Linked DNA regions of Homo sapiens: all the other regions are linked to region 2. Evidence: fine-mapped QTL for protein levels in blood plasma. Region 2 holds a variant in brackets. A gene starts in each other region. All regions are shown on their forward strands. Region 1 holds the start of MEP1A (meprin A subunit alpha). Region 2 overlaps SURF6 (surfeit 6). Region 3 holds the start of CD300LG (CD300 molecule like family member g).

Evidence for each region. PIP is the posterior inclusion probability: the model's chance that the variant is causal. The UK Biobank Pharma Proteomics Project read protein levels with antibody pairs (Olink). The fine-mapping took linkage between variants from a reference panel, not from the people measured, so its PIPs are less certain.
Region 1: MEP1A starts here. The variant in region 2 is fine-mapped to the plasma level of the MEP1A protein (UK Biobank, PIP above 0.99).
Region 3: CD300LG starts here. The variant in region 2 is fine-mapped to the plasma level of the CD300LG protein (UK Biobank, PIP above 0.99).

Annotation. Positions count from the first base shown.
Region 1 is chr6:46,788,479-46,796,658 of GRCh38, forward strand. MEP1A (meprin A subunit alpha) reads left to right here and starts at 4,911. Exons shown (of 14, transcript NM_005588.3): 1 at 4,911-4,989; 2 at 5,074-5,098; 3 at 5,188-5,238. The coding sequence starts at 4,921.
Region 2 is chr9:133,321,346-133,329,499 of GRCh38, forward strand. It overlaps SURF6 (surfeit 6), which reads right to left. Exons shown (of 5, transcript NM_006753.6): 5 at 7,431-8,154. Among named protein-coding and RNA genes, the nearest start is that of SURF6, 11 kb to the right of the region's middle. The variant T/C (reference allele first, on the strand shown) is at 6,413.
Region 3 is chr17:43,845,502-43,853,672 of GRCh38, forward strand. It overlaps CD300LG (CD300 molecule like family member g), which reads left to right and starts at 1,675. Exons shown (of 7, transcript NM_145273.4): 1 at 1,675-1,758; 2 at 3,057-3,392; 3 at 7,411-7,512. The coding sequence starts at 1,716. LOC107984979 (a long non-coding RNA gene) reads left to right here. Exons shown (of 3, transcript XR_001753057.2): 3 at 763-974. LOC107985077 (a long non-coding RNA gene) reads right to left here. Exons shown (of 2, transcript XR_001752896.2): 2 at 4,249-4,800.

The sequences.
Region 1 (8,180 bases), not on the chromosome of region 2:
TGCTTGTCTGATTCTTCCTTGTGTCATAAGAGAAAGATAACAATGTGTTCTTTGGGTTCTATAAAAGAGAAAAGGCTGGAACCAAATCCATTGAATGCCCACCTGGCCCTAAAGAGTGGCTTATTAGGGTCCTCAGTGCCCAGCTGAGTAAGAAGTACCCCTTGCCTCACCAATTGGGATTGGTGTCTGTACACACTCCAAAACACAGTTGCCTGCCCAGGTCAGCAGGTCTCACATTTTCCATATAGAAATAACCCCCAAGCTTGTTAAAAATGCAGGTCCTCAAACCACACTGCAGAGGGGCTGTTTCCTGGAGGCCTTCTGAAATGGACTTCTGTGTTGATGATCTCTCGAATTCTTAACATCTGATGTATTCCCTATTAGGAAACTGAAGGTTCTATGATCTTTTGATTTTCTTATACAAAGGGAATCAGAGGAAAGCTATTCGATAACCACAGTGAGAGTGGAAGCATCTGACTGATGCAAATTCCACAGTGTCCTGTTCATCAAAGTGTGTTCCACAGACTACCTGCATCAGAGTCACAAGGGTGCTTATTAAAAATGCAGATCTCTGGAACTCACCATTTGACGTGAGTCAGGATTTCCAAATTCCAAGCCAAGAAATTTGTACCTCAACAAACCATCCAGAGGATTTTGAAGGAATCTATAGCTTGGGAACTGTTTCCCTCAGGGTTAATTCTTCTTAGTAAACTGTTAGAGATGGAACCCTGTGAAACCAGGGGTCTGCATGCTACAGCATAATGGTGGAGGCCTCACTCCTGGGCTGTCAAAGGCCAGACATAGGTGTAAAGAACTGCCTCTCAGGTGGAATTTAGGAGCATTGTTCAGGATCTGCATGACCTTGAGAAGGTTCCTTAATTTTTCTTCATCTCAGTTTCTTAATATATAAAATGGAGATAATAATAGTTGCTTCTTCGTAGGATTGTTGTGAGGATTGAATGGATAATTACCCTTAGATACTTGGAATACTGCCTGGCCCACAGTAAGTACTATGTACATGTTGGTTGCTGCTACTGCTTCTGTTATAATTATTATCACCGTCTCAATTTCCACCACCTTGAGGGTTATTCTCTAAAACCCAGGGGTCAGCAAACTATGACCCTTTGCTTTGTTTTTGTGAATAAAGTTTTATTGGAACACAGCCATGTTCACACCTTTACATTATTGTCTACAGCTACTTTATGCTACATACAACAGGAGAGTTACATAGCTACAACAGGGCTCATATGGCCCACAATGCTTGACATATATCTCTTTGCCCTTTACAGACAGTTTGCCGACTCTTGCTCTATACACCTTTGGGCCCCTGTTAATATGTTGATTGCCCTGGGAGGAACAAGGACTGTTGTGTTTCAGGTTAGCTGACAGCTGGTTGAAGGCAGAACTCTGTGAGTGAAGCAGAAGGAATCAGCATCTTGCAATAGAGTAGAAAGAGGGCAGAGAACATCCTTGAGAAGGGTTTGGGGTGAGAGGACTTTGCAAGTCTCTTAGCCCAACTCCTTGCCTGAGCTTTTATGAAGCTGGAGAGTGTGTGGAAATAGCTGGGGGCGGGTTTTTCCATTTTCTACCTGTCAATGGCTTTCTTCCTCTAAGCTTCAGACCACTTTCTCAACTGGTCAGTTTATGAAATGCCCTTCCTGAGATCAAAGCAAGTCACCCCATCCGATACCTTCAGAGAAATTTCTATTTACTTTTTTCAGTTAAAATGAGAACTAATTACCTACTATGTTTCCAAACACTGGGGCAAATACAGGAAATAAAGCATGGACCTTGACCACAGAGTGCATAATCTTCTTTAAACTGAAAAGCCATAAACCCTTCAAATGAAGGACTTAAGGCCCCAGCCTTACTCATTTGATACCCTGACACAATGAAGAAGTGACTAGGATTGCAAATAGCTGGTAACTAATTAACATCTGCCATTAAGATTGTGACAATAAAATAATTGGGGGCAAGTTGTGTCTGCTGAAGACCTATGTTCTCATCACTGGAGATTCTACTGAGCAAGGAGTGGGCTGAGCTGTGTTTTTAGTGCCCATGTTTTGCTAGGAGGCAGTTGCTAACTAGCAGGTAGAAGGAGCAGTTTATTGAGTGCTTCCTATGTTTCTAGTAGCTGTGGTTTACATATGTTATCTCATTGAATCTTTACATTGGCCCCATGAAGTAGGCACCACTATCCATTCTACACATAAAAAGCAGGTACTAAAATTACTGTAGCTAGTCAATGGTAGAGGTGGAGTTCCTGCTTATCTGATTCCAAAGCCATTGTTGTAGTATATCATTCAGATAAGTTTAAGAAGGCAGGGAAAGATAAAAACACATCTGGCTGGAAGCAAGAGAAGGTGGAGAGAATTAAACAGCCTCACTATTCCCTGTTTGAAATCCTGATACCTGAGATTTAGTAGAGAGGTGTACCAAAGCAACAGCACTGCCTTTTTCTTTAGAAAATAAAATAACAAACTCCTACTTCCTGGTTTCCAAGATTAACAAATATTCAGTTTTACCAAATATTCAGTTTTACCATAATTGCTTCAGAATTTGAGAAAAATTAAACAACACATTTAAGAAATAAAAGTCTCATATGTTTTCCACACTGATACTTAAAGCCAATTATTCTTACGATGTTGGCCAGTTTTAAAATTTGATTATTGCCCAATTTTTAAATGGTCTAGATTGTAGTTGCTCACTTAAGTCATTGCGGCTGTTGGGCAAATTTGGCTTTTTGTTTTGTTTTGTTTCGTTTAAAAAATAATATTAGTGGTTTGTAATGGTTAGAGACGGTGGAAGATGGCCTTTTATCACCTCACCATCAGTGGCTTAGGTAAAACAAAAATCAGCCATAGAACGCTTCTGCCCATCAGAAGCAGGCCCCCAGTTGACATGCCTCCTATTTTACAGCTCAAGAAGCTCTACTGTTCACCTTCTAAAAGTCTTTTGTGACAGGAAATGCTTTTTTGACAGCAGGACTAGCCCACCTGCCCAGTAGTAAGTCTGAGGTAGAGAGATGCAGGCTCTAGACCTTGAAGATTGCTCTAATGCCAAAGATTCTTATATCTGGTGCAGGCAAGAATAGGTGGGTGTGTGCATATATTTAGTATTGTGCTGGCGCAGATGGAGCCCACTGTGTACATCTCTTCCCAACACTGCATTCAGTGACATGGTGTTGGTAGCTTGAAATTGACCATGGCAATCAACAAACACTACAAATAAAGGCTTGGTTTTGTTTGTTTGCTTGTTTGTTTTTACTTTTTTTAAAAGAGCCGATTATTAAACATTTACCTGTGCATGGCTGAATATATTCCATAATTTATCTTTTCTTTTAGTATAAACACATTTTCCCCATTCTTTACCATAACAAAAAAACTTCAATGAATATGCTATGTGGAATTTTGTGCACATATGTGTGAGTTCCTTTAGCATATAGACCTAGAAGTGAAGTTTCTATCTTATGAACTGTGCACATTTCAACTTCATTAGATAGCATCAAATTGATGTCCTACTAGATTTCCTATTTTCTTACCTTCTTGTTGACACTTGATATTGTCAGTCTTCTTAATTTATGCCAATCTTAGCTTGAGGTGGTATTTTACTGCTATTTGAACCTATAATTTTTCTGATTACTTACGAGGCTAAAAATCTTTTTACATATTTATTGGCCATCTGGGTCTTTTGTGAATTTGCTACTCATATTTTTTGTTCATTTTTTCCTTAGATAATCTCCTGTTCTTTTTATTGATTTGTAGAAATTCTTTACATATCCTGAATACTTATTCTTATTCAATTATATGCAGTATACATATCATCTCTCACCTGTGGCTTGTCTTTTAATCATGTTATGTTTTTGTCATAAAGAAGTTTAAATTTTGATACAGTCAAATGTATTATTCTTTTCCTCTGTAATTTCTATGTTTTTTTCATGTTTAAGCAATCTTTCTTGACCTAAAGGTTAAAAATATGTTCCTATATTTTCTTTTTTGAAGTTTATATTTTCATATTTAAATTTTTAATCTATCTAGAATTTATTTTTGTCAATGGTATCAGGTGTACATTTAATGTATTTCCTCATATGGAAATGCAATTATTCCCACATTATTATGAAAGAGACCCAAGTTTCCCTCTTGCCTTTTTGGTTCCTCTTATACATAAAAGCCCTGCATATGCTTGCATCTATTTGGATATTACCTATTCCAGTCTATAGATTCATTTTATCTTTATTTTTGGAACTATTACACTCTAATTACTGTAACTTTACCAAAGCTCCTGATATTCTTTTGAGGCAATTCTTTTCTCTTTATTCAGCCTTTTCAGAATTTTCTTATCTATTCTTCAATGTTTACTCTTTCATGCGAATTGAACCATTTGTCAGCTTGGCAAGTTCCACTGAAAACCCTGTTAGATTTTTTACTAGAATGACAATGAATTTATAGATTAATATTAAAACAATCTATTAATATTTCATACATATGTACATATAGAGAGAGAGTCAGGTATTTTTATGTCCTTCAATAATTGCTTTATAACATTTCCATAAAATTTGAATTTATATTTTATTAGAATTAAATAATAATAATTTTATAAATTATTTTTATTTTTATTGTTAAGGGGATCGTCTATCCTGTTTTATGATATGAATGGCTATGGCTGCCCTATAGGAATGTTATTAGTTCTTATATGCTCATTTCCGTATTAATTTTTCAAACTTTTCCCCAGTCTTTGGAGCTTAAGCATTTAAGGTAAACTTAGTGTTTGTCCTCGAAAGAGTCAATGATGTTATCTTTGACAACCTTTATTGGCACTACGGTACATATGGAAGGGTCAAAGTTTCTAATACGACCGTCAGGGTAAAGTCTAAACGGTATTTATGACAAGGTGTGTGCTAAAATCAGCTCACTTGCAGCAATGGCTTGGATTAGATCCACTTGCATTCTCTTTTTTACCTTGCTTTTTGCCCACATAGCAGCTGTACCGGTAAGTCGAGTCCTGCTTTTTGGATATTTAGAAATATTAATTCTAGTATACATTATCCATTTTCTGTATATTTATTTTTTTCAGATTAAGTATCTTCCTGAAGAAAATGGTAAGAATTAGTTCAAATGCACAGAGAGTGTTTTTGAACTTTTTTCCTTCGGCAAGACTAATAATAATTTTTTTTCTCACTTTTAACAGTACATGATGCAGATTTTGGTGAACAGAAGGATATTTCAGAAATCAATTTAGGTGAGTTCAATTTTTGTGTTATTAAAGTCTTGAAATTACTTGAAACCCAGTGGTGGGATTACTGAACACTTTCCTTCCTAATACTGTATTGTGATTCTCTGGGGGAGAAATATTTTTTGGTGCTTTGTGAGAAATTGCATTTTCTGAAAGATAAAAATGCGGAAAGAGAAGATAGTTAGACCAGACTTTCTAGGAGAGCTAGGAAGTCCTCAATGGATCTAGAAATATGTAACAAGTTTCTCTTTATAAAAATTTTATTTTTCCAATTTGTATTTGGAGGAAAAGGAAAGCAAATAGATAATTATTCCGATTGTTAAAGAAAAATATAAGAATAAGCCTCTGGTTATATTTAGTGGGGAAACAAAACCCAACCCCTCCACTGGCCCATCATATTCACTAACAACTCCTCGGTTGAGACTTAGGGGTGAGTGTAAAGCAATCTCCACTTAGACATCTCATTTACAAATATATTTCTTGAAGAAATTCATCAGTCTCATCCATTACTGAGAGGAGAGAGAAGCTGAGTCATCATCTCTGTTTTCTCTCTGTTGTCCTGCTTCTGAAATGAGAGAGAAGCCTCTGCATTCCCAGTGTCTTAGGTCAGGATTTGTGGAAGCAGAGCTATTCATGATAATAAGTACCTTCAGTTTACAAAAGCTTTTATATGCAATTGCATATTTATTTGTCCAGTCTTGTCGTGGAGTAAGTGCTGTTTTCATTTTTTTGGGAAGCGACAGGTGGCTTCTCATGGGTAGAGTGACTTGCTCAAGATCATAGGTAGCAGTGATGGGGCTTACTTCCAGATCTTGTAGCCCATACCTTAATAGCTCAGTGCTATCTGAAGGCTACAAAACTAACATACCAATAACTAAGGGTCAATTTTTCTGGCTTTGTCTCACTCACAGAGAAGCCAGTTAGTTGATATTTAATTGGAATAGCTGGAGAATGGCTGCATAGGCAGAGCAGAAATAGTTTAGGAAGGTAAATGGGTGAATGCATAAATGGGTCCCAAGACTTCAGAGCCAGGCACTAAAATATCTCTCTTTAGAGTTAGCCATTGTGTAAACAGTTCAGAGAATCTGCTGTATTTTACAACAGAAATGGGATTAGAATTAGAGTTTTTCTAATCTCATCATTATTTATCTAATAAAAATTAATTATTTACCTCTTTGCCATTTTGTACTCTTTAGGCCCACCACCACCTCTGATCCTTGACCCCAGTGGAGAAATCTCATTACCATGTAAATCTTCTTTTTAGGCCATTTCAACCAAACCACCAGGATTGATTGGGTTAGCCATATGGCCAGATTCTAACACCATAAATTGGGAAAATCATATAGAGAAAATTGCCACCTTTTTACCATCTTCTTTTTGCCTCACAAGGCTGAGTAAACGTTTCTTATCCTCCATCCCAAGACCTGCTCCTCTCAGTCCTTTTCATTTCAGTAAATGTGACTCACTCCTTCTAGATTTTCGGCTCAGAATGTTAGAGTTGCCCCTAACTCTTGCTTTTCTCTCACACCTGACACACAATCTGTCAGCAAATGTTATTCGATCTACTCGATCTACTTTTCTTTTTTCTCTTTTCTTTTCTTTTCTCCTGAGATGGAGTGTTGCTATGTCACCCAGGCTCGAGTGCAGTGGTGCCATCTCGGCTCACTGCAACCTCCGCCTCCTGGGTTCAAGCGAGTCTCCTGCCTCAGCCTCCCGAGTAGCTGGGATTATAGGTGCCCACCACCATGCCAGGCTAGTTTTTCTATTTTTAGTAGAGATGGGGTTTCTCTATGTTGGCTAGGCTGGTCTTGAACTCAAGACCTTGTGATCCGCCCACCTTAGCCTCCCAAAGTGCTGAGATTACAGGCATGAGCCACCACGCCTGGCCTAGATCTACTTTCAAATCATACTACAGTTGAGACTTTTCAGCACTTTTACTGCCCCTACCTTGGTCAGCCACCTCATGTCTGGGCTGGTCCTTTGACAGGCCTCATAACTGTGCTTCCCTTTCTGCCTTTGCTCCCTAAAGACTATTCTGCACAACATAGAGCTCTCCTTTTAATATCCTTCAGATCATGTCATTTCTCTGCTCCAACCATCTAATGACTTCTCCTTCAACATAAAGTAAAGGCCCTAGAGCCTTGATTCCCAAAGTGTGGTCCACAGGCCAAAGTGATCTGTGTCACTCAAGAGCTTTCTCTTAGAAATGCAGCATTTGAGGATCCACCCCAGACCTACAGAATTAGCATCTTCATTTTGACAGACCCAAGTGGTTTCTATGCACATCAGAGTGTGAGTCAATCTGCCCCTGACTACTCTTCCCCTTCCTACTTGAGCTTTCCAGCCACCCTGACTGCACAGCTACTCCTCTAAGGAAGTGATTTTCGATGTGTTGTCCCCAAGCCAGCAGCATCGGCATCACCAGGAAACTTGTTAGGAATGAACATTCTCAGGCCTCACCCCAGACTTAATGGACCAGAAATCCAACGGTGGGGGCTCATCAACGGGTGTTGACCAAGCCTTCCAAGGGACTCTGATGCTCAAGTTTAGGACCACTGCCCTAAGACATCAAGGCTTTCCTGTCACAGGACCTTTCTATCTGGTGTTGCCTCTACCTCCCCTACTCTTCCTTCATTCCCTCACTCTATCATATTTCTGCTAAAATGCCACCTCCTGTGGGAGGCCCTGCCTGACCACTCTTTAATAAAATAGCAAACCTATCTCACCTCAGCACTCTTTCCCACTTTACCTTTCATTTGTTTCTTTTTTATTGTACTTTTCACCATTTGTCACACTTTACAGTTATTTGTTTATTTGTATGTCTCCTTCTTCCCCCAATCAAGAGAGTCATCTCCTTAAGGACTTGTTTTATTCTCTACTGTATCCCAGCATCTAGAAAAATGCTTAAGACACATTAGGCATTTAATAAGTGTATACTACATGAACAA
Region 2 (8,154 bases):
GGTGTGGTGGTGTGCACCTGTAATAGCCACTCAGGAGGCTGAGGCAGGAGCATCGCTTGCACCTGGGAGACAGAGGTTGCAGTGAGCTGAGATCGCACCACTGCACTCCATTCTGGGTGACAGAACAAGAGTCCATTTCAAAAAAATAAAAAATGTACTGTCCATGTTTACTGATGACTTTATGTAGTTAGTGGATCCTGCCAGCACAGCCACAGTTCCTGCTGATCTCTGTCCCGCAGTTGACCACCCCGTCTGTGTTTTTGCCCCAGCCTGTATTGCTGGGCTTGAGTCTTCTGTCCTCACGACCCTCACCGGGGACTCAGACACAGCCCTTCTGCTCTGGGGACATGTCAGTCCTTGGCCTGAGCGTCCAGGCTCTGCGCGGCCCCGTTGTCCTTACAGGGACTCCGTCCCTGGGGAAACTTCCCACGTGTCAGAACCTTCCCTTCCTTTGTTTGAGAAAACAAAAAATTCTTCCTCTCTTGACCAGGAGCAGTGGCTCACGCTGGTAATCCCAGCACTTTGGGAGGCCGAGACAGGAGAATTGCTTGAGGCCAGGAGTTCAAGACCAACATAGCAAGATCCCATCTGTTTATAGATCTATATCTATGTATCATCTCTCTATATAGTACATGTAATATGTATATAATATATAATAATCATATATATAATTCTTCCTTTTTTGCGGGGGGAGGGGGTTGGAGTCTCACTCTGTCACCCAGGCTGGAGTGCAGTGGCATGATCTAGGCTCACTGCAACCTCCCCGTCCTGGTTCAAGCGATTCTCCTGTCTCAGCCTCCCAAGTAGCTGGAACTACAGGCATGTGCCACCGCATCTGGCTAATTTTTGTATCTTTTTTTTTTTTTTTTTTTTGAGATGGAGTTTCACTCTGTCGCCCAGGCTGGAGTGCAATGGTGGGATCTCAGCTCACTGCAACTTCCGCCTCCCTGGTTCAAGTGATTCTCCTGCCTCAGTCTCCCAAGCAGCAGGGATTAGGCGCCTGCCACCACACCTGGCTAATTTTTTGTATTTTCAGTAGAGATGGGGTTTCACCATGTTAGCCAGGCTGGTCTTGAACTCCTGACCTCAGGTGATCCGCCCGCCTCGGCCTCCCCAAGTGTTGGGATTACAGGCGTGAGCCACTGTGCCTGGCCAATTCTTCCTTTCTTGAATGCCCTTTTCTGCCATCCTAATTTTCCCATCGTTCAGGGTCAAGGTTGATGCTCACCTTCCCCAGTAAGCCCTCCCTGATGTCTTCCCAATTCCTGTGGGGTAAGCAGGGCAGCTCAGTGGCTGAAGGCACATGCGTCACAGCCAGGAAGCCCTGGTTTTCGCTCTGACCCCACTGCTTCTGGCTGACCCTGGAGAAGCCATCCACGCTGAGCTGCAGAAGGGCCACTACAGCCTGTGTGCAGCCCTCACAAGGCGTATACGGGAATTACTGCAGCGATACGGGGGATTCCTCGAGGAGCTCACTGAGCATGCAGGTGTTACACCCCAGAGCGCGCTGAAATCATTCAAATGAGCCAAGCCTAAGCCTCCCTACCGCCTCGCCCACCCCCTCCCATGGAAACCACATTACGGGCTTCACCCACAGTTCTGCCCTCTCCTGCCTCCTGACCGACTCCAGCACTTCCCCGTGTGGCCCTGTGTGGCTTGGGGTACCCCTTCTCCTGGAAACTGTCGTAAACTATCCTTTCAATGGCAATTATCTCCTGATCTGGTGGCCTTACTGAACCTCAAATTTTCAATAAATACGTTGTTTTTTAAGCCAGGCTTAATAGCATGCACTTGTGGTCTCAGCTACTTGGGAGGCTGAGGTGGGAGGATCGCTTGAGGCCAGGAGTTTGTGGCCGCAGTGCAGTATAATTGCACCTGTGAAGAGCCACTGCACTCCAGCCTGGGCAACGCAGGGAGACCCTGTGTCCAAAAAATAATTATTATATTTTAAAGACAAGCAGACTATGCATGGAGTCCCGAGGGTGAACAGGTGTCGGGGGGCAGCGGGAGCGTGGAGAAAGCCGGGAGGAGGTGGGAACAGGAAACCCTCAGGGTCACACCCCAGAAGGAGAAGGCCCTAGCCTGAATGGGACTGCTGGGAAGGGGCTGAACACCAGCAGGGAGTGGAGCTGCGGAAACACACACGGAAGTGGGGCATGGGTGCTGGGTGGACACTCCACTTCCAGATAAGAGGGGATCTTGTGGATGGTGGTGGAGGCGCTCCTGGCCCTACTGGGCTCCGGCACTCAGCCTGCCCTGCCACAGAGGCAGCCCATACTAGAGGCTACTGCACGTCAGGAGAGGGGCAGGCTCAAAACCAGAAAAGTTATACTCTGGGCTCTGCCAGCCCCACCCTCCCAATCCAGGAAACCCAATTCATCCAAATATGAGTATCAATATCCACCCAAAGATACCAGAGGGAAAAAAGAAACCTAAAAGGAGCGGGTGGCCAGTGCAGTGCTCACTCCTGAATCCCAGCACTTTGGGAGGCTGAGGCGGGAGGATCGCTTAAGCCCAGGAGGTCAAGACTGCAGTGAGTTGTGACTATGTCACTGCACTCCAGCCCAGGCAACAAAGCAAGACCCTGTCTCAAAAACAAACAAACAAAAAGGGAACAGCAAGACTTCCCTGCAGATGAAGAAAACACAGAGAAAACCACTGCCACAAAGCCAAGTGAAAGTGGCAAGCCAGCGGGCAGCCCCATGATGCAGCTGGGGAAGTGGCCAGGGGAGTGGCTGCAGCGGAAATGGCCATGGGGAACTCTGCGGCCCCAGGAAGAACAGGTGGACAGGTGCTGGTGGAACTTAGGAAGGACTGGAAGCAAAGGCCACAGACACAAGTCTAGAGATGCTGTGGAAAGTGCAGCCAGGAAGAAACAGGGACGTGAAGAGGCACAACAGCAGCAGAGCAAGCAGGCAGGAGAGGCGGTGGCGGGGGAGGCAGCAGCAGGGGAAGCAGCGGTGGGGAGGCAGCAGCAGGCAGGTCCTTGGCTGGCAGGGCAGAGCCAAGACAGGACAGACTCCAAGGTAGAAGTCCAGACAACTTTGCTAAAACAAACGAATTGAGGCGGAGCATTACTGCTGAGCTTTGCCTCCTGTCAGATCAGCGGTGGCATTAGATCTTCATAGAAGTGCAAACCCTACTGTGAACTGCGCATGCGAGGGATCTAGGTTGCTCACTCCTAATGAAAATCTAATGCCTGATGATCTGAAGTGGCACAGTTTCATCCCCAAACCATCCCTCCCACCACCCCTACTGTCCATGGAAAAATTGTCTTCCAAGAAACCAGTCACTGGGGCAAAAAATGTTGGTCAAAAGTACCGCTGTACTAGAGTGAATTTTAGTTAACTGAGAGATGATCACAGATAGTAAGAGGAACAGGGAGTGAGCACTCACATATTCAACTAGAGGACAGGGACCGAGATAAAAACAGCAGCAAGTTGTGATGGGTACGTACGGTGTGTTCCCTGCCAAATCCACACACTGATGTCTTAACCCCAAGCACCACAGAACGTGACCTTGTTTGGAAATGGTGTCACTGCAAATGTTATTAGTTAAGATGAGGTCACTAAGGTGGGCTCTAATCCAATGTGACTGGTGTCCTTATTATAAGAAGAGGCAATCAGGACCCACAGACAGGCACAGGGGGAAGATGAGAGGATGCTGTTTGCAGGCCAAGGACAGCACCCAGGAACAGCCTTCACTCAGGGTCCTCAGAAGAAACCAACCCTGCTGATGTCTGGACTGGACCCCTGCCCTCCAGAGCTGTGAACAATGAATTCCTCTCACCTAAGCTGCTCTGCGGTGCTTTGTTAATGGCAGCCCTAGCAAACTCATACACAAAGGTAACAGAATGTGTAAAAAAACAATTTTACAAAGGCAGCTATAACAGTATGAGACAAGAAAGCAGAGAGAGGATGGAAAATAGAATCGCCCTGCTGATTCCTTCATATTATAGTTGGATTCTAAAGACATCACTTAATGCTGACAAACTGAGAAGTTTAGCATATTAAAGAGGACAGAGGCAAATACTAAGAAATATAATAGTATTCATTCAAAAAATGGGTGGGCCGGGCATGGTGGCTCACACCTGTAATCCCAGCACTTTGGGAGGCCGAGGCAGGTGGATCACCTGAGGTCAGGAGTTCGAGACCAGCCTGGCCAACATGGTGAAATCCATCTCTACTAAAAATACAAAAATTAGCCAGGCTTGGTGGCGCGCATCTGTAATCCCAGCTACTAGGGAGGCTGGAGCAGGAGAATCGCCTGAACCTGGGAGGTAGAGGTTGCAGTGAGCTGAGATGGCGCCATTCCACTCCAGCCTGGGTGACAGAGCGAGGCCTGTCTCAAAAAAAAAAACAAAAAAAACCATGGGTGGTAGAAAAGAGAGAGAAGGGAGAGAGGGGAAAGGTTTACAAATTATTTCATAGTAGGGAACTATGAGAACTCTTTTAAAGGTTGAGGGGACTAAAGATATTATTTAAGGGTATGAACAGTAAGTAGCAACTAGACCCAAAAAAAATCAAGCCTTCCTAAAAACCAGAAGAGCTACATTTTTTAAGAGCAAATGCAGATTAAGTAATGACTATATGTAGTAAATGTGAAATAAAACAATTTCAAAAAGAACAAAGTTGGAAGACTCATGCTACCCGATTTCAACACTTACTATAGAGCTGCAGTGATTAAGACGGTGTGGCGCTGGCGAAAGGTTCAGGGGAACAGAACACACAGTTTAGAAATAGACCTACACAGATTTATGGCCAATTGATTTCAGATGAAGGTACAAGGGCAATTCTACGAAGACAGTCTTTTCAGCAACTGGTCCTGGAACACTGGACATCTTTATGCAAAAACGAACCTTCAAAATGGTTATGCCATTTTATTTATTTATTTATTTACTATTTTTTGAGATGGAGTCTTGCTCTGTCTTCCAGGCTGGAGTGCAGTGGCGACAGCTCGGCTCACTGCAACCTCCGTTTCCCAGGTTCAAGTGATTCTCCTGTCTCAGCCTCCCAAGTAGCTGGGATTACAGGCACCTGCCACCACGCCCGGCTAATTTTTATATTTTTAGTAGAGATGGATTTCACCATCTTGGTCGGGCTGGTCTTGAACTCCTGAGCTCAAGTGATCCACCTGCCTCGGCCTCCCAAAGTGCTGGGATTACAGGAGTGAGGCACCACGCCCGGCCACAAGTCCTTTATTATACTGTATGTTTTACAAATATTTTCTCCCACTGTGAGCCTTTTTATCTGTTTTCCTAATTTTTAATTTTTGATGAAGTGCAATAATTGACAGAATGAATAGATAGAAAATTGGCACCAGGTGCAGTGGCTCACGCCTGTAATCCCAGCACTTTGGGAGGCCGAGGAAGGCAGATCACCTGAGGTCGGGAGTTCGAGACCAGCCTGACCAACATGGAGAAACCCCATCTCTATTAAAAATACAAAATTAGCCGGGCATGGTGGCGCATGCCTGTAATCTCAGCTACTCAGGAGGCTGACAGGAGAACTGCTTGAACCCAGGAGACAGAGGTTGCAGTGAGCCAAGACCGCGCCATTGCACTCCAGCCTGGGCAACAAGAGCAAAACTCTGTCTCAAGAAAAAAAAAAGAAAGAAAGAAAGAAAAAAGAAAAGAAAATTGGCAAGGATACAGAACTTGAACTCCACTGGACCTGACATTAAAACACTTGACTCAACAAGAGCAGAAAACATTCTTCTCGAGCACACACAGAACATTTACCAGGAGAGACCACAGTCTGGGCTATGAAACAAACCCTGTTAACTTCAAAAAGATTCAAGTGGTTTTTTGTTGTTTTTTGATACACGGTCTCACTCTGTTGCCCAGGCTGGAGTGCAGTGGCAGGAACATGGCTCACTGCAGCCTCAACCTCCTGGGCTCAAGTGATCCTCCCACCTCAGCTTTCTGAGTAGCTGGGACTATAGGCATAGGCGTGGGCAACCGCCCCAGGGTGATTTTTTAAATTTTTTTGTAGAGACAGGGTCTCGCTGCATTGCCCAGGCTGACCTCAATCTCCTGGGCTCAAATGATCCTCCTGCCTCAGCCTCCCAGTATCGGGATTACAGGTGTGAGCCACCACGCCCCAGCCAAGGACTCAAGTTATACAAAGTATGTTCTCTGACCACAATGAAATTCAACTAGAAATCAGTAACAGAAAGATCTCTGGTAAATTCCCAAATATTTGGAAACTAAATGACATACCTTTAAATAACTCATTAGCCAAAGAATAAATCAAAGGGAAATTAGCAAGTATTTTGAACTGAATGAAAACACAACATATGAAAATTCGTCAGGTATCACAAAAGCAGACTGAACTTTTTAGACCTTACAAATGCATGACTGTCCCCCTTGCCTCTGATCTTCTGCCTGGGGTCTGCCTTTCCCCAATCTTTG[T/C]TCACTATACTGAATCCTACATGACACAGTCAACCTATGAAGAAATCCAGAGATAGACTCTCTAAAATAAATGGATTTGGGAATAGCAGCTTATCTGGAATACTGCAACCGTTGAGGATGGTCTTGCAGTGAGTCCTGTTATTGGTCTGTTTGTAGAAATGTCTTGTGGTAAGTCCTGTTGCAGGAATGTGTGCGTGAGGGCTGCTTCATCACCTCCAACTGTTTTAGTTTGACATAAGTGACTCCATTTTGGTACCGGCAACGTTCACAACTTTCCATGTGACTTCAGCACCCTGCACCCCGATCCTTTCCCTGGCCACTTTGCAGGACCACTACCTATGAGACTATGGGTTCCTTGAGAGCTAGGGCTGGGTCTCATTCGCTCCTGAAACTTTCACCCAGCAGAGTGATGGCCCACGCCATGCATGACATGCGTTGCTCAATGACTGCATCCACTCAGCCAGTATGCCAGTCCCCACTGAGCCTCACTCTCAACCTCCCTGGCTGGCATAGGTTCCTTGTGCAGACATCCAGTGGCAGTAAAATATTGCTGGGTTCTCAGCTTCCCCCACCTGCAGCCCTCACTGGCCCACCCAGTTGTCCTGTCTCTGCTCAGGACGAGACCCCCCCCCGCCTCTTCAGTCTCTGTAGCCAGGTGATGGCAGTGGCCTTTTCCAGACCCTCACTGGCCCCTTAGTTCACTATGATGACTTCACCTCTTGGGAACCCATGGGGATGTCTTTCCCTCCAATACATCTACATTTGCCTGACCCAGAATGTAGTTTCAAGATGGGTCCATGCCTGGCTCCAAATCCCCTTATCAGAGTAAGGAAATACCTTAATTCCTAGTTTGCTAAAAACTCGTTATAAATGGCTGTCGCGTCATTTACTGTGTTCCTGTTCTGCAACCATTGAGATGGTCACGTGGGTTTTGCTCCTTTAATCTATTGATATGAATTACACTCTTGATTCTCTGGCATTGAAACTGCTTTGCAATTCTGAATTAAATCCAGTGTGGCACTTTGCTAAACTTGGTTTATTATTGTCTAAAATCTTGACATTGGTATTTGTAGGGACCAGCCCCACAGGGTCCGTGGGTCTCTCCCTCCCTGTGTGCAGCAATGAGAGAGTGTAGAAATACACACACAAGACAAAGAGATAAAAGAAAAGGCAGCTGGGCCCGGGAGACCACTACTACCAATGCTCGGAGACCGGTAGTGGCCCCGAATGTCTGGCTGCATTGTTATTTATTGGATACAAAGCAAAAGGGGCAGGGTAAAGAGTGTGAGTCATCTCCAATGATAGGTAAGGTCACGTGGATCACGTGTCCACTGGACAGGGTGCCCTTCCCTGCCTGGCAGCCGAGGCAGAGAGAGAGAGGAGACAGAGAGAAAGACAGCTTATGCCATTACTTCTGCATATCAGAGACTTTTAGTACTTTCACTAATTTACTACTGCTATCTAGAAGGCAGAGCCAGGTGTACAGGATGGAACATGAAGGCGGACTAGGAGCGTGACCACTGAAGCACAGCATCACAGGGAGACGGTTAGGCCTCCAGATAACTGCGGGCAGGCCTGCCGGATGTCAGGCCCTCCACAAGAGGTGGAAGAGCAGAGTCTTCTCTAAACTCCTCCAGGGAAAGGGACACTCCCTTTCCCGGTCTGCTAAGTAGCGGGTGTTGTTCCTTGATACTTTTTGCTACTGCTAGACCATGGTCCACCTGGCAACGGGCGTCTTCCCA
Region 3 (8,171 bases), not on the chromosome of region 2:
GGAGTGCAATGGTGTGATCTCAGCTCACCACAACCTCCACCTTCTGGGTTCAAGCGATTCTCCTGCCTCAGCCTCCCTGAGTAGCTGGGATTACAGGCATACACCACCATGCCTGGCTAATTTTATATTTTTAGTAGAGACTGGGTTTCTCCATGTTGGTCAGGCTGGTCTCAAACTCCCGACTTCAGGTGATCCACCCGCCTCAGCCTCCCAAAGTGCTGGGATGACAGGCGTGAGCCACCATGCTGGGCCATAAATATTTTTTAATCTGTGTTTTTTTAAAACTGCAAAAACAGATCACCTTTTGTAGTCTGTACATGTAAAAGAGAGTCAGGGGCTGAGATCATGGTAACAGTTTTCCCCACCGTGAACAGCTGGCCCTGCCCACTAAATGGCAGCAGTGCTTCGCAGTCATTGTGAAATTAAAACACTTCTCCCCACGTTACTAGACTCACACACACACAATCTTCCCTCCCAGAACCACTGAGTTAATGCTTCAGATATTAACCTGACAAGTCAGTAAAATTCCAACTGAACATTTGGAAGGATATATGCCAAAATATTAATGGTGCTTTTCTAAAGCAGAAGGGGAATTACAAGAAGCACTCCCTTTTTTCTTTCTTTCCTTTTTACGTTCTGTATTGTGTAAAATTTTGCTTACAACCTGTATGAACTTTGCAACCAAACCAAAAAAAAAGTCATTTTTGAAGCCAGTGTGTCAGAGCTCCCAGTAGTGTACATGTTTGTTTTGGTCCTTTCAAGGAGGATTCAAGTCTGCGATGGAGAAACCACCAATTCACTTTTTCAAATGCCAAAACAACTCCGCAGGCGTGGAGGAGACCTATCTTGCAGCGCTGTAGGCCCAAGGCACCAGGGAATCCGGTCCAGCTCAGCCCTACAGCTTTGCTCAGCCCCGTCTGCACCGCCGCCCCGTGGCCAAGGGCAGTACTGCGTCCTCCAAAAGGCAAGGGCGGAGGAGGGGCCAGGGGCCTTGCCCCAGGGGCAAGCTTCTTTCTGTCCCACTGACCACATGGCAGTCTGGTGAAGTTTATGGACCCCTCTCTCAGTATAATGGCGGGTAAATATATAAATAAAATATATATGCTGGAAAGAAAACTAATACTGGTGAGATGATTCTTAAAACTCTTTATAAATGTGTAATATAATAATAGCCGTTTCATTATTGTAAATAACCAGCTCTAGGGGCAGGTCTAGGAACTCATTGTTTTCCAAGCAGTGAGGGGTATACACGACGTTTCGAGATATCCACAACTTGATGTGCCAGTGTCTGTGATTGTAATTGGTAACAAAGTTGCAGGTACTGCTAACAGTACACTCTGAATAAGAGGAAAAGCTAAATATTAGAAGTTGATGAAAGTCAATATGTAACTTTTTCCCATGCGAATTCGACTTACAGACCCCTTAGGGCGCACGGACCACAGGTTAAGGCCCCCTTGAAGGGGCACGAGTTTAGGAGAAACTCTGGTGTGGGTTTTCAGTCCTGGAAGGTGAGCCCTGGGGTAGGCACGCGTGGGCGCTCAGAAAAGGGAAGGCAGAGGCGCCTCCCCGGCTGGGCCTGCGGAGGGATGACCCACACGCCCCTCCCCTCGCTTCCTTGGCCTGGTTTCACGCGACTAGAGAAAGTTAAAGACCCGTGTGACTGAAGAGGAGCTCACAGTTCCCAGCGTCTGCTCCCACGGTGTCCAGCGCCCAGAATGCGGCTTCTGGTCCTGCTATGGGGTTGCCTGCTGCTCCCAGGTGAGATGGGGAGAGGGTCTCGGGAGGGATGTGGGGCTCACCCTTGTGGTCTGCAGGGAAAGGACCTCTTGACTGACTGATAGCCCCACCCCACCTATCCTCAGCCTCCTCAGCCCTAGGGGAGCGGGGCGGGCTGGGGGTGGGGGGAGGTGGGGGTGGCGCCGGGGCCGCACTTGCTGTTTCTGGAACCTAGAGCCAGGTTTTCTCCAGACCTGTGGGTTTCCCCTCATGGCAATGTGGCTGTGAGAGTTGCTTTGCCTCTCTAATCTTAATTTTTCTACCCTGTGCCAAGCCTGGAGGCGGACAAGACACCCCATCTGGTTGCCCTGTTAAACTCAGCAAATATTTGTTGAATTTCGGCTATGCCTCTCCCCACAACCCTGAAAGATGAAGAATTATCACGTTTCATCAATTCTTTTGCTTTCTTTTTCTTTACCTTCTAACACTTAAAATCAGGATAAATCCTACAACTGATGTCAGTTGTTCAGTTGGCAATAGTGAGACCCCATCTCTACAAACAAACAAACAAACAAACAAACAAAATTAGCCAGGCATGGTGGTGCACACTTGTAGTCCTAGCTAGTGGGAGGCTAAGGTGGGAGGATCGCTTGAGCCCCAGAGGTCAAGGCTACAGTGAGCCATGAGCACCATTGCCCTCCAGCCTGGGCAACAGAGTGAGATCCTGTCTAAAAACAAAACAAAACCAGGCACGGTGGCTCACGCCTGTAATCCAAGCTCTTTGGGAGGCTGAGGCGGACGGATCACAAGGTCAGGAGATCAAGACCATCCTGGCTAACACGGTGAAACCCCGTCTCTACTAAAAATACAAAAAATTAGCCGGGCATGGCAGCACGTGGCTGTAGTCCCAGGTACTCAGGAGGCTGAGGCAGGAGAATCACCTGAACCCGGGAGGCAGAAGTTTCAGTGAGCAGACATCGGGCCACTGCACTCCAGCCTGGGCGGCAAAGTGAGACTCCATCTCAAAAACAAACAAACAAACAAACAAAACAAAACAAAACACTCAGAAACCCTGCTGGCTATCTGGCTGTCAGATTCTATCTGAATCTAGAACGCCACCCCTGCACCCCAATTCCTCAATGGGCCAGGGTTAGGGAAACAGCAACAGCCCTGCCCCAAGTTCCCCCAGCGTGGGAGGTTAGTAATGGCTCTTCCAAGGCTGTCCCCAGAAGGGATGACTGAGAAAAGCCTTCCTTCTTCCTCCTAAAATGGAAGCTCTGGCCTTGACCTTGGTACATGGAGCCTGGTTTTTCCAACCTCCACTCCTGCTCTGATTTTAGGTTATGAAGCCCTGGAGGGCCCAGAGGAAATCAGCGGGTTCGAAGGGGACACTGTGTCCCTGCAGTGCACCTACAGGGAAGAGCTGAGGGACCACCGGAAGTACTGGTGCAGGAAGGGTGGGATCCTCTTCTCTCGCTGCTCTGGCACCATCTATGCAGAAGAAGAAGGCCAGGAGACAATGAAGGGCAGGGTGTCCATCCGTGACAGCCGCCAGGAGCTCTCGCTCATTGTGACCCTGTGGAACCTCACCCTGCAAGACGCTGGGGAGTACTGGTGTGGGGTCGAAAAACGGGGCCCCGATGAGTCTTTACTGATCTCTCTGTTCGTCTTTCCAGGTAACAGATATCTCTCCTTCCCCAGGCTGGGGACAGGAGCTGCAGAGGGAAGAGGGAGGGGTGGTGGGGCATAATCCTGGTACCAACATTATGGGCACTGAGTCCTCAGGGAGATCATGCAGGTCAAGCACCGAGCAAGGCTTGGGGCACAGAAGGAGCCGCCTGAGTCTTGGCCATTGTCTCACTCTTGCTGCCCGAGGTCACACCAGTAGTAGATGTCAGAGCAGGACCGGACCCAGATCTGTCCAGGGCTGGGCTCGGCGCCTTTCCTTTCTGCCCAGGTGTGCTGGAGGGAGATTTCCATAGGCTGGGTACAAGATAGACATATCAGGGGATAAAGAAGACTCCTCGCCTGGTGTCAGAGATATTCCTGAGGCCTCCCGAGGCTGGGCCAACCATTGCTGCATTCCAGACCCAGCCCACAGCATCACCCTGGACATGCTGGCCTCGCCCTGCTTGTGCCCTCAACTCTCCCCTCCTGGCCTCCACCTCCCCAGATATTGAAGTCCAGCCACAGGTGCTAGAGTGCCTGGGAACCAGCCTCTGGGTAGGATGCCTGAAGGAGGGATCGTTAAATGCAGGGACACTAGGGGGCCGGGGCTGGAGCTATGGGGCCTGGGTAGGGGATAAAGCACCTCTCTGGGAGCCCAGAACCCCAAGTGGACCTGCTGAGCTAAGGAGAAAGAAGCCAGAGAGGGCCCAGGGGAGTGGGAGCCTTGGTCTGCTGGCCAGTGTGGGCGAGGTACATCTTTGTATCCCCATTTCACGGATGAGGGACTGAGGCTCCAAGAGACTAAGTGATTTGCCCAAGATCTCACAGCAGGAAGTGATGGAACTGGGATTCAAACACAAGTCGTTTCCAGCTTTGATGTCTGCTTTATTCCTCTCCTAGCCCCATAGCTGGGACCTATCCCAATCCCAGGCCCATCCCTACCACCATAGCCCCTATTTTTTTTTTATTCCTTTATCCATGGATCTTTAATTTGAGGAAATAAAGTTAAACTTGCCAAATAGCAGCAGCATCGAACCACATTGAATCTGTTCTTCATTATTTACAAGATTCTCTTATCTCTTCCAATTCTTATCAGTGTTCACATGTCATTTCTACCAGTTATGATCAAGTTCGCTTGTGTTTTAGGTTTACCCTCATTTGTAATTCTTTATTTGTGTATGACATGTGTATTGCTATATTATCGTCCTATATCGGACTCTATTGGCCTCTCTCTGATGGCAGTTGGGATGTTGAAAATGAAGAAGACTGACGACAGTGATGTGCTGGTAAATGTTTAACAGGCTGGGGATGCTGTCATTTTGTGGTGTTTTCCAATTTCTGTGGTGTCCATTTCTGTGGTCCAATTCCCATGGCCAATTTCCAGCCATCGACAGTTTAACACGATCTCACCAACTCCTGAAAAGTTAACAGTGAGCTCTTGTGAGTCAGTGCGAGCCATCTCCAGCACACCATTGAGTATGGTGAACCATGAGAAGAATTTCTAAGAAAGTCAGAAAAAGACAAATGTAGCCACTATCATTTCTTTTCTTTTTATTTATTTATTTTTATTCATTCATTCATTCATTCATTCATTCATTTTTCTGAGATGGGGTCTCACTCTGTCATCCAGACGGGAGTGCAGTGACACAATCTTGGCTCATTACAACCTCTGCCTCCCAGGCTCAAGTAATCCTCCTACCTCAGCCTCCAGAGTAGCTGGGACCACAGGCACAAGTCACTATGCCTGGCTACATTTTGGTTTTTTGTTTTTTTTTTAAGATGTGGTTTCGCCATATTGGCCTGTCTGGTCTCAAACTTCTGGACTCAAGCCATCTGCCTGCCTCAGCCTCTCAAAGTGCTGAGATTACTGGCAGAAGCCACTGTGCCCAGCCAGCCTACTATCATTTTCTTTTATTCATCTTTGCCTGAAGGCCCTAGGCAATGAAATATGCAAGATTAAGAAGTATAAGTCCCGGCATGGTGGCTCACGCCTGTAATCCCAGCACTTTGGGAGGTCAAGGCGGGTGGATCACGAGGTCAGGAGTTCAAGACCAGCCTGGCCAAAATGGTGAAACCCCGTCTCTACTAAAAATATAAAAATTAGCCGGGCATAGTGGCAGGTGCCTGTAATCCCAGCTACTCAGGAGGCTGAGGCAGAGAATTGCTTCAACCCGGGAGGCGGAGGTTGCAGTGAGCCAAGATCGTGCCACTGCACTCCAGCCTGGTCAACAGAGCCAGACTCAGTCTCAAAAAAAAAAAAAAAAAAAAAAAGAAGAAGAAGTATAAATGTTGGAAAGGAAAAGATAAATACTCTGTATTTGCAAAAGATTTGATCATCTACTTAGAAAAATCCAAGAATAAACTGACCTAGTGTTACAGATTGAGTATCCCTAATCCAAAAATGCAAAATACTCCAAAGTCCGAAACTTTTTGTGTGCCAGCATCACACACACAAAGGAAATGCTCACTGGGGCATTTTGGATTTCAGATTCCTGGATTAGGGATGCTGAATCGGCAGATATAATGCAAATATTCTGAAATCTGAAACACTTCTGTTCCCAAGCATTTTTGGATAGGGGATACTCAATCTGTAGAAGAGAAAGTGGTGGAGAAAGAGGGAGAGTCCAGGATGGCACACAGTCAGCAAGGACTGGGGAAGTGACAGATGGACTTGGGGAAGTGGGGACCGGAGTAGCTCCTGGGGAGTTGGTTGCATCAGGCTTCTGCCCACTGTGCTGGGCACAGAGGACAGGAATTTTTTTTTTTTTTTTTTTTTTTTTTGAGACGGAGTCTCGCTCTGTCGCCCAGGCTGGAGTGCAGTGGCGCGATCTCGGCTAATTTTTTGTATTTTTAGTAGAGACAGGGTTTCACGTGTTAGCCAGGATGGTCTCGATCTCCTGACCTTGTGAGCTGCCTGCCTTGGCCTCCCAAGAGGATAGGCATCTTGCCTTTAAGGAGTCTCAGCCTAGCAGGGAGACCCAGTACACAAGAAATTGCAGTGTAAGTGAGCATTAGCGCCACTGGAGGCACGCACAGGGGACTGTGAGTGCACAGAGGAAAAAGAGATTCGCTGCTTCCAGGGAAGACATTACAGAGGAGTTGACCTTGAGCTTGTGCTGAAGGACAGAAAGAAGTGCTTTAGGCAGAGATGGAAAGGAAAGGCATCGCACACAGAGGAACAGCATGTCCAAGGCACGGAGGTGGGCAGGAGGCTGGTTTAGTCGGGAATAGAGGATGACTCTATGGCTGGAGCACCGAACAGAGAAAGAGGCGAAGCTGACAAGGTGGTTCAAAGCCTCAAAGCCTGAGTTTTGTTCTTTGCTTTTTTTTTTTTTTAGAGACGAAGTTTTGCTGTTGTTGCCCAGGCTGGAGTGCAGTGGCGCAATCTTGGCTCACTGCAATCACCGCAACCTCTCCCTCCCGGGTTCAAGCAATTCTCCTGCCTCAGCCTCCCAAGTAGCTGGGATTACAGGCATGCTCCACCATACCCAGCTAATTTTGTATTTTTAGTAGAGAGGGGGTTTCACCGTGTTGGCCAGGCTGGTCTCGAACTCCTGACCTCACGTGATCCACCAGCCTTGGCCTCCCAAAATGCTGAGATTACAAGTGTGAGCCACCACACCCGGCCTGAAGCCTGAGTTTAAGAGGCCTCGAAAGGCATACTAAAAAGTTTGAACTTTGGCTTTTAGGCAATGGAGAGCCAGTGACTGTTCTAAGGCAGAGAGGGATGGGATCCAACACAGACTTTTGAGACAAAACTGGAGTAGTGTGAAGGGTGGCAGGGAAGAAGCAGGCTGAGAGGCAGGTGGGTTTGAGGCTCTGAGCTAGGCGCGAGGCCAGGGGGCTGCAGGAGTAGAAGACCAGGGATCTGCTGGAACCCGCCACGTGGCTCCTGGTTGGCCGAGGCGAAAGATGGCAGTGCTCTGTGCTGAGGTGGGGGGTAGGAAAACTGCCAGCTGCTCCCAAGGAAGGAAAAGGGGTTCAGAGCGGTGCCACCCCTGAGAGCAGCCTTTCCCTTTCCTCTAGGACCCTGCTGTCCTCCCTCCCCTTCTCCCACCTTCCAGCCTCTGGCTACAACACGCCTGCAGCCCAAGGCAAAAGCTCAGCAAACCCAGCCCCCAGGATTGAGTGAGTGAATGGCAATTCCGCCCCTTCCCTTGCCACCCTTCTTACAGAAGCAGCCAGTGAGTGCCTGCCTGGTACCAGACACAATAGTTTATGGCCACCTAGGTGTCCCCACAAGCCTGGGAGCTGGGTTGTCCAGCTGTGGAAGTGGAGGCTCAGCAGGGTTAGGTCACTTGCTCAGGGTCACACAAGAAGTGCCAGATCCCAGAAGTGGTCACAGCCTGACCCCAAAGCTCATATTCTGTCTGCGCCATCCAGAGTCTCGGGGGCAAGCCAGAAAGGCCAGGCCTTGGGCCCTGACCTCTGGACTCATCCTGCCACCCTGCCCTTCCTGGTCTCATGGCTGCAGAAGGAAGTCAAGGCCTTACTGAGGCACGGGTGGTTGGGGAGGGGGCACATGGTGGTGAGGGGAGGACCTGCCCTTCTGGTGAGGAAGGAGGTGACAATTGACTGGGACTGTAGGGGGAGGGCAGGAAGGTGTCCACTGAATGGTCACTGGAAAGGGTCATGGAAGCGGGGAAGGGGAGTGCTTATACCTCCTCACAGAGGCAACAAGCTGTGGGCACAGAAAGAGACTGAACATCATGCACAGCTGTGGGGTGTGCCTGATCTACGGTCTCCTTCCTCAAAGTGGCTTCATCTAGATCTGTTTGCTTACTGGG